Regions from separate parts of the Homo sapiens genome. Here region 2 is linked to region 1. The links come from fine-mapping of genetic effects on gene expression. A gene starts in region 1. The other region holds a variant in brackets. All regions are shown on one strand. Distances are between the middles of the regions.

Region 1 (4,386 bases):
CCACTGTCAGGAGTTCCAGTTCCCAGAACCCCAATTTTGCCTACAAAATAGCGTGTCTTTTCACGGGGAGAGGATTTGTTGAGTTTTAGTGGGTACTCAAAAAGATCTAAAGCCAGTTGGGGGGGTTCACACATGTAATCCCAGCACTTTTGGGAGGCCGGCCTGTGAGGGTCGTTTGGGCGCAGGAGTTTGAGACCAGCCTGGACAACACAGCAAGACCCTGTCTCTATAAAAAATAAAATAAAAATAATTAGCTGGGCATAGTTGCGCACGTCTGTGGTTCCAGCTACTCGGGACGCTGAGGCGGGAGGATCGTTTGAGCCCAGGTGCTTGTTGAATTGAGCTATGAGTGCACTACTGCACCCCAGCCTGGGCAACAGAGTAAGGACCCAGTTTCTAAGAAAAGAAGATTCATTAGCTAGACGCGGTGGCTCACACCTGTAATTCCAACACTTTGGGAGGCCAAGACGGGCGGATCACTTGAGGCCAGGCGTTCGAGACCAGCCTGGCCAATATGGTGAAACCCCGTCTACTAAAAATACAAAATTAGCTGGGCGTGGTGGCTCACACTTGTAATCCCAGCTATTCGGGAGGCTGAGGCAGGAGAATTGGTTGAACCGGGGAGGCGGAGGTTGCAGTGAGCCAAGATCGCGCTACTGCACTCCAGCCTGGGTGACAGAGTGAGTACCCCGCCTCAAAAAAAAGAAAAGAAAAAAGATTCATGATCTGCTAAAGTTGAAGAAGTGGGGGAAAACATTGGAGTGTTAGCGGCGTCAAGATCGGGCGTGAGCAGAAAGGGCACAGCATTTGCAAAGGCGTGGAGGAGTGATTTTATTGCGTTCTATCCCTAGGAAGCAATGACTTGGCCTCTACCATTTGCAGAGCGCATTGGGACCCTGCTCCCAGAGCTGGTTTGCAGTCTGGGAACTGAGATGCGCTCTGGGACTTGTAGTTTTCCCCAGTGCCAGGAAACTCAAAAATCGAGACATCGGATCCCACCACGAGGTGTCGCCCTTGAGCGAGTACGGTGGGATCTATCCTATACTTCAGAAGGCTGTTGCAGACATCCAACAATCACAAGGAAGAACGGGAGTTTTTCTGATTGACAGATATGGTTCTCAATGATAGTCAAGATTCGGATGTTAAAGCCCGCCCTCTTTTGCCTGGTTGGCTGGAGCAACGAAGTGATATTTATATGAACCAATGGGAAATTCTTAGGGAACGAGGTAGTAGCTCAATCCCCAACACCATTGGTCCACATTGTCTACTGGCACGTCTGCCTGCCAATAAGATGGTGGAACTTCGCCAATGGGCAGAGCCAACGTGCCTTTTTCGGAAACACCCCCTTCCTCTCTTGACAACTTGCTTTCTGCCGCTATTGGCTGTTGCACAACAGTGACGGTTCTTTTGTCCAATAAGTCAGCAAGACGGTCCCCAGGGGGAAGGTTTACTCAACCATAGGCCCGTGCCTAGTTTTTATTGGCTAGTGTATCCGAGTGGCGGTGCAGCAGGCCAGTCGCGTGCGGCGCGAGTGCTTTGGGCGCAGCCCCCGGGGCCGGGGCGGGAGGTCGCTCGGGTCGGGTGTCGCCTGAGAACCGGATGAGGCGGCGACCGTGAGGCCGAGCCGGGAGCGGGCGTCTTGCCGAGGCCCGGGCGGGCGGGGAGCAACGGCTACAGACGCCGCGGGGCCAGGTCGTTGAGGGTCGGCGGCGGGCGAGGAGCGCAGGGCGCTCGGGCCGGGGGCCGCCGGCGCCATGGGCAACCGCGGGATGGAAGAGCTGATCCCGCTGGTCAACAAACTGCAGGACGCCTTCAGCTCCATCGGCCAGAGCTGCCACCTGGACCTGCCGCAGATCGCTGTAGTGGGCGGCCAGAGCGCCGGCAAGAGCTCGGTGCTGGAGAACTTCGTGGGCCGGTGAGCGGGCGCGGCAGGGATCGCGGGCGGGTGGCGGCCTAGGGCGCGGAGGGCGGACCGGGAATGGCGCGCCGTGCGCCGCCGGCGTAACTGCGGCGCTTGCGTGCCCGCGGCGGGGAACCGGACGGGGTCGGGGAGGCGGGCCCTGTGGGACGCCCTGGGCAGAGGACTCCCTGCAGGGGCTCCGGAGCAGGCCCGGGCCCCAGGGGCGGTGTCACGGGCCAGGGCGCCGTAGGACAGGAGGTGCGCTGGAACCCTGCGGTCCATCTGGTCCCAGCTTTCGTGGGTGAAGTCTGCCATCTGGTTGGCCGTGGGTCTGGGGTAGATCCCTCTTCTGCTCTTTCGGGCTGTCCATCAGAGGTGAAACCGGCCATCTAGATATCTATTGGGGCGACCGCTGCGGTCTGGCTGGCTTGTTCTTGTATCTGGAGCTGCCCCCGCCGTCTGGTTGGCTGTCTCTCTGTCCTGGGCAAGCCTCCCTGCCACCACCATTTGGTTGTCCATCTGTCCAGTCCCACCTGGCAGCCCCCTGCTGTCTGGCTAGCTGTCCAGGGTGACCTCTGCTGTCTGGCCGCCCATCCGTGCCCCTCACAGACTTTAACACTGAGCAGTCCCTCTGTTGGGTGACACCAGCTGGCCTCTACTGTCTGACTGGCTAGCTGACTCCTAGGGGACCCTGTTTGATTCTCTCTGGCTGACTCTTACAGCTTGATTCCTGGCTAGCGCTGGCTCCTCTCTTCCGTGTGAATTCTTCTGTCTGTCTGGCCATCTCCTAGTCTGCCCATGACTACCCCTGAGTGTCTGGCACAACGGCTCTGGAAAGGGGTGGTAGGAGGGTAGAGGGGAGAACAGAGCTGAAGGAGGAGGTTTGGACCCTACTTCCCCTCTCAGCTGGAAGGAGGACTCTGGGGGTACCTTACTTCAGGATTCCTTTCCGAGTGCTAGAACACAGGGGCCCGCCTCCCAGCTACAGCCTACAAATTGGGGGCCCTCCTTTGGAGCCTGGGAAGGGGCTTCTTGCGTGATCAGGCCTCAGTGGCTAGCGCTGGGATGTAGCCTTCTCTGGACAGCCTTGAGAAGCCGCGGTGTGCCCATCTGTCCAGTGGGCAAACTCCACTCTCTGGGGCTGTTTCCAGGATTCAGGAAGCAAATGAATGAGAACAGCCCGTGCAGCCACCTCTCCCTCCCACCAACCCCTCTTGCCTTTCTTGTCTCCCAGATGGGCGGCCACTTCTCCATTCCAGGAACTACTCATTTGTGGTGGTGTGGCTGCCAAATGATAACATCCTCCTCCTGTCATTATTGTCATTGTTATTGTTGTTATCATTGTCAAGGGATAATGTCCCTTCTTGATTCAACATCTTGAATCCCAAGTAAGGAGTGGGGTGGAGGCTGTGTTATCATCCCCACCTTAGCTGAGCTGGGAGGCTCAGAAGGGACTGTGATCACCCAAGGCCACTAGGCTGGCGTAAGGCCTTGTGTCTGCCATCCCAGAGCCTTGGGGCTTTGCTCCAAGCAGCACAAATCTCCTCTTTTGCTACCTTGTCTCTAGCTCATTGCCTTCTGTCTACCGTGGTGGAAAGGTGTGGACTTGCAGCCAGCTGGGCCTGGCCTGATCTCAGGCTGGACTGTGGTGTGGGCCCCTTTGAGTGACCATCTTCCTGCCTGCCCAGGCTTCTGGGACGGGGGTGGGGGGTGTTTGCAAAGCTCTGTCTCTTTCACTTGCCTTGTGACCTTGCACAGGTTGTCTTGGCCTCTCTAAGTCTTGGTTGACTCTCCTAAACAAGTTTATTTTATTTTATTTATTTATTTATTTTTTTTTTTTTTGAGACAGAGTCTCCCTCTGTCATCCAGTCTGGAGTGCAGTGGAGCAATCTTGGCTCACTGCAACCTCTGCCTCCCAGGTTCAGGCCATTCTTCTGCCTCAGCCTCCCGAGTAGCTGGGATTACAGGCGTCTACCACCAAGCCCAACTAATTTTTGTATTTTTAGTAGAGACGGGGTTTCACCATGTTGGCCAGGCTGGTCTCAAACTACTTACCTCAAGTGATCCTCATGCCTTGGCCTCCCAGAGTGCTGGGATTACAGGTGTGAGCCACCAAGCCTCGCCCCAGGAGTTCCAAGACCAGCCTGGGTAACATGACAAGATGCCATTCTACAAAAAATAAAAAAATTAGCCAGGTAGGGTGGTAGTCCCACACCTGTAGTCCCAGCAACTCAGGAGGCTGGCCCTGGGAGGACTGCTTGAGCCCAGGATGTCCAGACTGCAGTGAGCCGTGATTGCACCATTACCCTCCAGCCTGGGTGACAGAACCAGATCCGGTTTCAAAAAAAGAAAAGAAAAAGTGCTTACTTACCTAACGCACTGCCTGGCACATAGTAGGTCTACATGGATGGGGCTATTGTTGTTTATCTGGCTGGTTCCTTTGCTATCAGGGACAAAAGCTAACCAGAATGAAAGTGCTTTCACGT
Region 2 (4,386 bases), 65 kb after region 1:
ATTCTTTGCAACAGTGTGTATTGAATTATCCAGCTTTTCTCCCCCATATACTGAAGCGTTAACTTTCAGTTCTACCTCCTTCTCGGTGTAGTTTTGGACTTTCTTTTCAGTTCCATTGATCTCTCTGGACATGAATACCCTGATGTACCCAACTGTTTAAAATATACTCGTTTGATAGTGGATTTTAGCTCTTCCCTATTGCTCTTGTTTTTAAGATGTTATTTCTTTTTTTTCTTGTGAGACAAGGCCTCGCTCTGTTGCCCGGGCTGGAGTGCAGTGGGGTGATTACAGCTTGCTGCAACCTCGAACTCCCAGGCTCAGGTGATCCTCCCATCTCAGCCTCCCAGGTAGCTGGGACTATACACGTGTGCTACCACGCCTCGCTAATTTTTGTATATTTTTGTAGAGATGGGGTTTTGCCATGTTACCCAGGCTGGTCTGGAACTCTTGGGCTCAAGCGTTCCACCCGCCTCGGCCTCCCAAAGTGTTGGAATTACAGGCGTGAGCCACCGCACCTGGCCTTGAGATTTTTTTTCTTTTTCTTTTTCTTTTTCTCTTTCTTTTTATTCAGAGTCTTGATCTGTCGCCCAGGCTGAAGTGTAGTTGCATGATCTTGGCTCACTGCAACCTCCGCCTGCCGGGTTCAAGCGGTTCTCCTGCCTCAGCCTCCCGAGTACCTGGGACTATAGTCACGCGCCACCATGCACGGCTAATTTTTTGTATTTTTAGTAGAGGCGGGGTTTCACCATGCTGGCCAGGGTGGCCTCGAGCTCCTTACCTTGTGATCTACCCACCTCAGCCTCCCAAAGTGATGGGATTACAGGCGTGAGCCACCGCTCCCGGCCGAGATTTTTTTCTCACCTATCTTTGAATCTCAGCTTGTAGATTTCATCTGCCCCAAAGCTTTTTTCTGTCCCTGCGCACACAGGCTGGATGTGAGCTCTCCTTCCTCCAAATACTTAATGTTGCTCTTCGCAGCTGCCATGTGCATTCGCACCCTCTGTGTTGTTTCTGAGTAACATGTTATGACAGCTGTGAGTGCCTCGTGGGACAGGATCCATCTCTATACTTGAATCTTGCCCATCCCCGTGCCAGGTCCACTTGGCTCACCTAGCTTTGCCCCTGACCTGACTGCCTCTCCCCACAGGCTACATTGGCGTGGTGAACCGCAGCCAGAAGGATATTGAGGGCAAGAAGGACATCCGTGCAGCACTGGCAGCTGAGAGGAAGTTCTTCCTCTCCCACCCGGCCTACCGGCACATGGCCGACCGCATGGGCACGCCACATCTGCAGAAGACGCTGAATCAGGTACTGCAAGGGTTTGCACGTAGTGTGCAGTGGCATAGGCTGTGCACTGCACAACAGCTGCAATCCTCACTGGCACTTGTTTCAGGCTAGAGCAGCACTTGTTTTAGCAAAATGGGTTCAGTCCACATTTAGCCTAGGAGTTTGAGACCAGTCTGGGCAACATATGGAGACCCCATCTCTAGGAAAAATAGAAAAAATTAGCTAAGCATGGTGGCACATGCCTGTAGTCCCAGGTACTCAGGAGGCTGAGGCAGGAGGATCACTTGAGCCTGGAAAATCAAGGCTTCAGTGAGCCATGTTCATGCCACTGCACTCCAGCCTGGGCAATAGAGTGAGACCCTGTTTCAAAAACTTAAATAACTAAATAAAAGAAATGTACTTGATTCAGGGTCTGGTGAAGAGCAGATGTTCAGTGACTTGGTGCTGCTACTATTACAACCATCACTGTTATTATTACCAAAATTTTAATTATCATTGTAATTATTCAGTCATTTACCCAGAAGACTGTATGCATTGCCTGGGGTTGGTGACAGGGGGTTAATAACTCTTTTTTATTTATTATTATTATTATTATTATTATTATTATTTTTTATTTTTGGAGACACAGTCTCACTCTGTCACCTAGGCTAGAGTGCAGTGGCATGATCTTGGCTCACTGCAACCTCCACGTCCCAGGTTCGAGTGATTCTCCTGCCTCAGCTTCCTGAGTAGCTGGGATTACAGGCGTGTGCCACCACACCTGGCTAATTTTTGTATTTTTAGTAGAGATGGAGTTTCACCATGTTGGCCAGGCTGGTCTCAAATTCTGAGCTCGAGTGATCCGCCTGTGTCAGCCTCCTGAAGTGCTGAGATTACAAGCATGAGCCACCATGCCTGGCCTATCGTTCTCTTCTTGTAAGTAATTGATTCACATGGTGCATAAACAGAAATG[G/A]TATTAAAAGCTATACAGTGGGCCAGTGTGTGGTAGCAGGGGCAAGACGCTCCTCCTCGCTGTTTTCTAGCACCTTCCAGGGTGGCAGCAGGGCCTCAGCAGCACTCCAGCAGTCATCTTTTCATGCACATATCAGGGGGACACAGTGTCCACACGAGAGTAGGTTCCTGTCCTTGTAGAAGGCATAATTCTAATGGGGGAGACTGACACCCAACAAACCGCCAGATAAATGCACGATCAAGAATCCAGTAGGGGCGCGGGGGCCGGGAAAAGAGCCACCCAGAGAAGGCAGCTCAGGAGAGCAAAGAGGGAAGTCAGTGTCTAGAGGGAGGGGCCCTCCAGGAGAGGAAGCTGGGGTGCTTACAAACGGGAGTAGGGAGAGGAAGGGAAGTAAAACTCCGCAGCTGGCTGGGGCCTCCTGAGAGCCAGCAGTGAAAAGTCCAGCTGGCCTCCAGGGAGCCTGGAGGGGGCTCAGCCTCCTTCCACGTGGGGTGCTTCCCAGAGCAGCAGCGCCCCTTCCTCTCCATTTGCTCATGACTTAAGTGCCCTAGTATCCTGTCACAGACCAAGGGAAGGCCAGCGTAGCTCCCTGCCTTTCTAGGCAGCCCACATAGACGGGGGTCGATGGCCAGGGCTGCAGGGCAGGGACCCTTGGTCACGGAGGTCTTTGGGTTACCCCACTTGCTCCATGCCATAGATGTGAGGTTCCTTCATGCCTCTTTTCTAGCTCGCCAGACACTTTGTATTTATTTTTTATTTTTTTGATGATTTTTTTTTTTTTTTTTTTTTTGAGACAGAGCCTCACTCTGTTGCCCGGGCTGGAGTGCAGTGGCATGATCTCAGCTCACTCCAGCCTCCACCTCCCAGGTTCAAGTGATTCTCATGCCTCAGCCTCCCAAGTAGCTGGGATTACAGGCGTGCGCCACCACACTCAACTAACTTTTGTATTTTTAGCAGAGACAGGGTTTCACCATGTTGGCCAGGCTTGTCTCCTAATCTCAGGTGATCTGCCCGCCTTAGCCTCCCAAAGTGCTGGGATTACAGGCGTGAGCCACTGTACCCATCCCGGCCTTCCCCTCAACCCCAGATGGAGTCTCGCTCTGTTGCCCAGGCTGGAGTACAGTGGCACAATCTCGGCTCACTGTAAGCTCCGTCTCCCGGGTTCACACCATTCTCCTGCCTCAGCCTCCCGAGTAGCTGGGACTATAGGCACCCATCACCACACCCGGCTAATTTTTTTTTTTTTTTTGTATTTTTAGTAGAGACGGGGTTTCACCGTGTTAGCTGGGATGGTCTTGATCTCTTGACCTCATGATCTGCCTGCCTTGGCCTCCCAAAGTGCTGGAATTACAGTGTGAGCCACTGCCCCCGGCCCATGCCCAGCCTTTTTGATTTTTCAGACAAGGTCTTACTCTGTTGTCCAGAATGGATTGCAGTGACACAAACACGGCTCATTGCATCCTCAGCCTCCTGTACTCAAGCGATCCTTTTGCCTTAGCCTCCTGAGTAGCTGGGACTACAGGTGTGTGCTGCCACACCTAGCTAATTTTTAAAACTTTTTTTATCTTTTGTAGAGAGAAGGTCTCACCATATTGCCTGGGCTGGTCTCAAACGCCTATCCTCTAGTGATCTGTCTCAACCTCCCCAAGTGCTAGGATTACAGGCGTGAGCCACTGCACCCAGCTTTCTCTGTTGTAGGACAGATGGCCAAACTCTGCTTTACACTTTGCAAGTATAGGCTGATTTTATGGCTTTGTTTTTCTTTTTCTTTTTTTTTGAGACAGAGTCTTGCTCTGTCACCCAGGCTGGAGTGCCATTGTGTGATCTCGGCCCACTGCAACCTCCACCTCCCGAGTTCTTTCTCAGCCTCCCAAGTAGCTGAGACTACAGGCACCCACCACCACACCGAGATAATTTTTGTATTTTTTGGTAGAAACAGGGTTTCATTGTGTTGGCCAGGCTGGTCTCGATCTCTTGATCTTAAGTGATCCTTCTGCCTCAGTCTCCCAAAGTGCTGGGATTGCAGGTGTGTACCACCATGCCTGGCCCACATTTGTCTATTTTGAATCTTCCTTGCTTTTCTCTGTAGATGCAGATGCAGCCGGGGAGCTCATCTTGAGTGCATTCTCCACCTTTTCAGGGGCGAT

The links. PIP is the estimated chance that this variant, and not a neighbour inherited with it, causes the effect. A credible set is the group of variants that fine-mapping cannot tell apart.
Region 2: its variant is the best candidate, but not a certain one, in a credible set for the expression of DNM2 in whole blood (TOPMed, PIP 0.62).

The regions. Positions count from the first base shown.
Region 1 is chr19:10,716,489-10,720,874 of GRCh38, forward strand. It overlaps DNM2 (dynamin 2), which reads left to right and starts at 1,591. Exons shown (of 21, transcript NM_001005361.3): 1 at 1,591-1,915. The coding sequence starts at 1,755. It overlaps MIR638 (microRNA 638), which reads left to right and starts at 1,916; the gene lies at 1,916-2,015. RefSeq lists enhancers at 670-859, 1,050-1,169, 2,610-2,749 and a silencer at 1,450-2,119.
Region 2 is chr19:10,781,813-10,786,198 of GRCh38, forward strand. It overlaps DNM2 (dynamin 2), which reads left to right. Exons shown (of 21, transcript NM_001005361.3): 6 at 1,148-1,308. Among named protein-coding and RNA genes, the nearest start is that of MIR4748, 3.8 kb to the left of the region's middle. The variant G/A (reference allele first, on the strand shown) is at 2,240.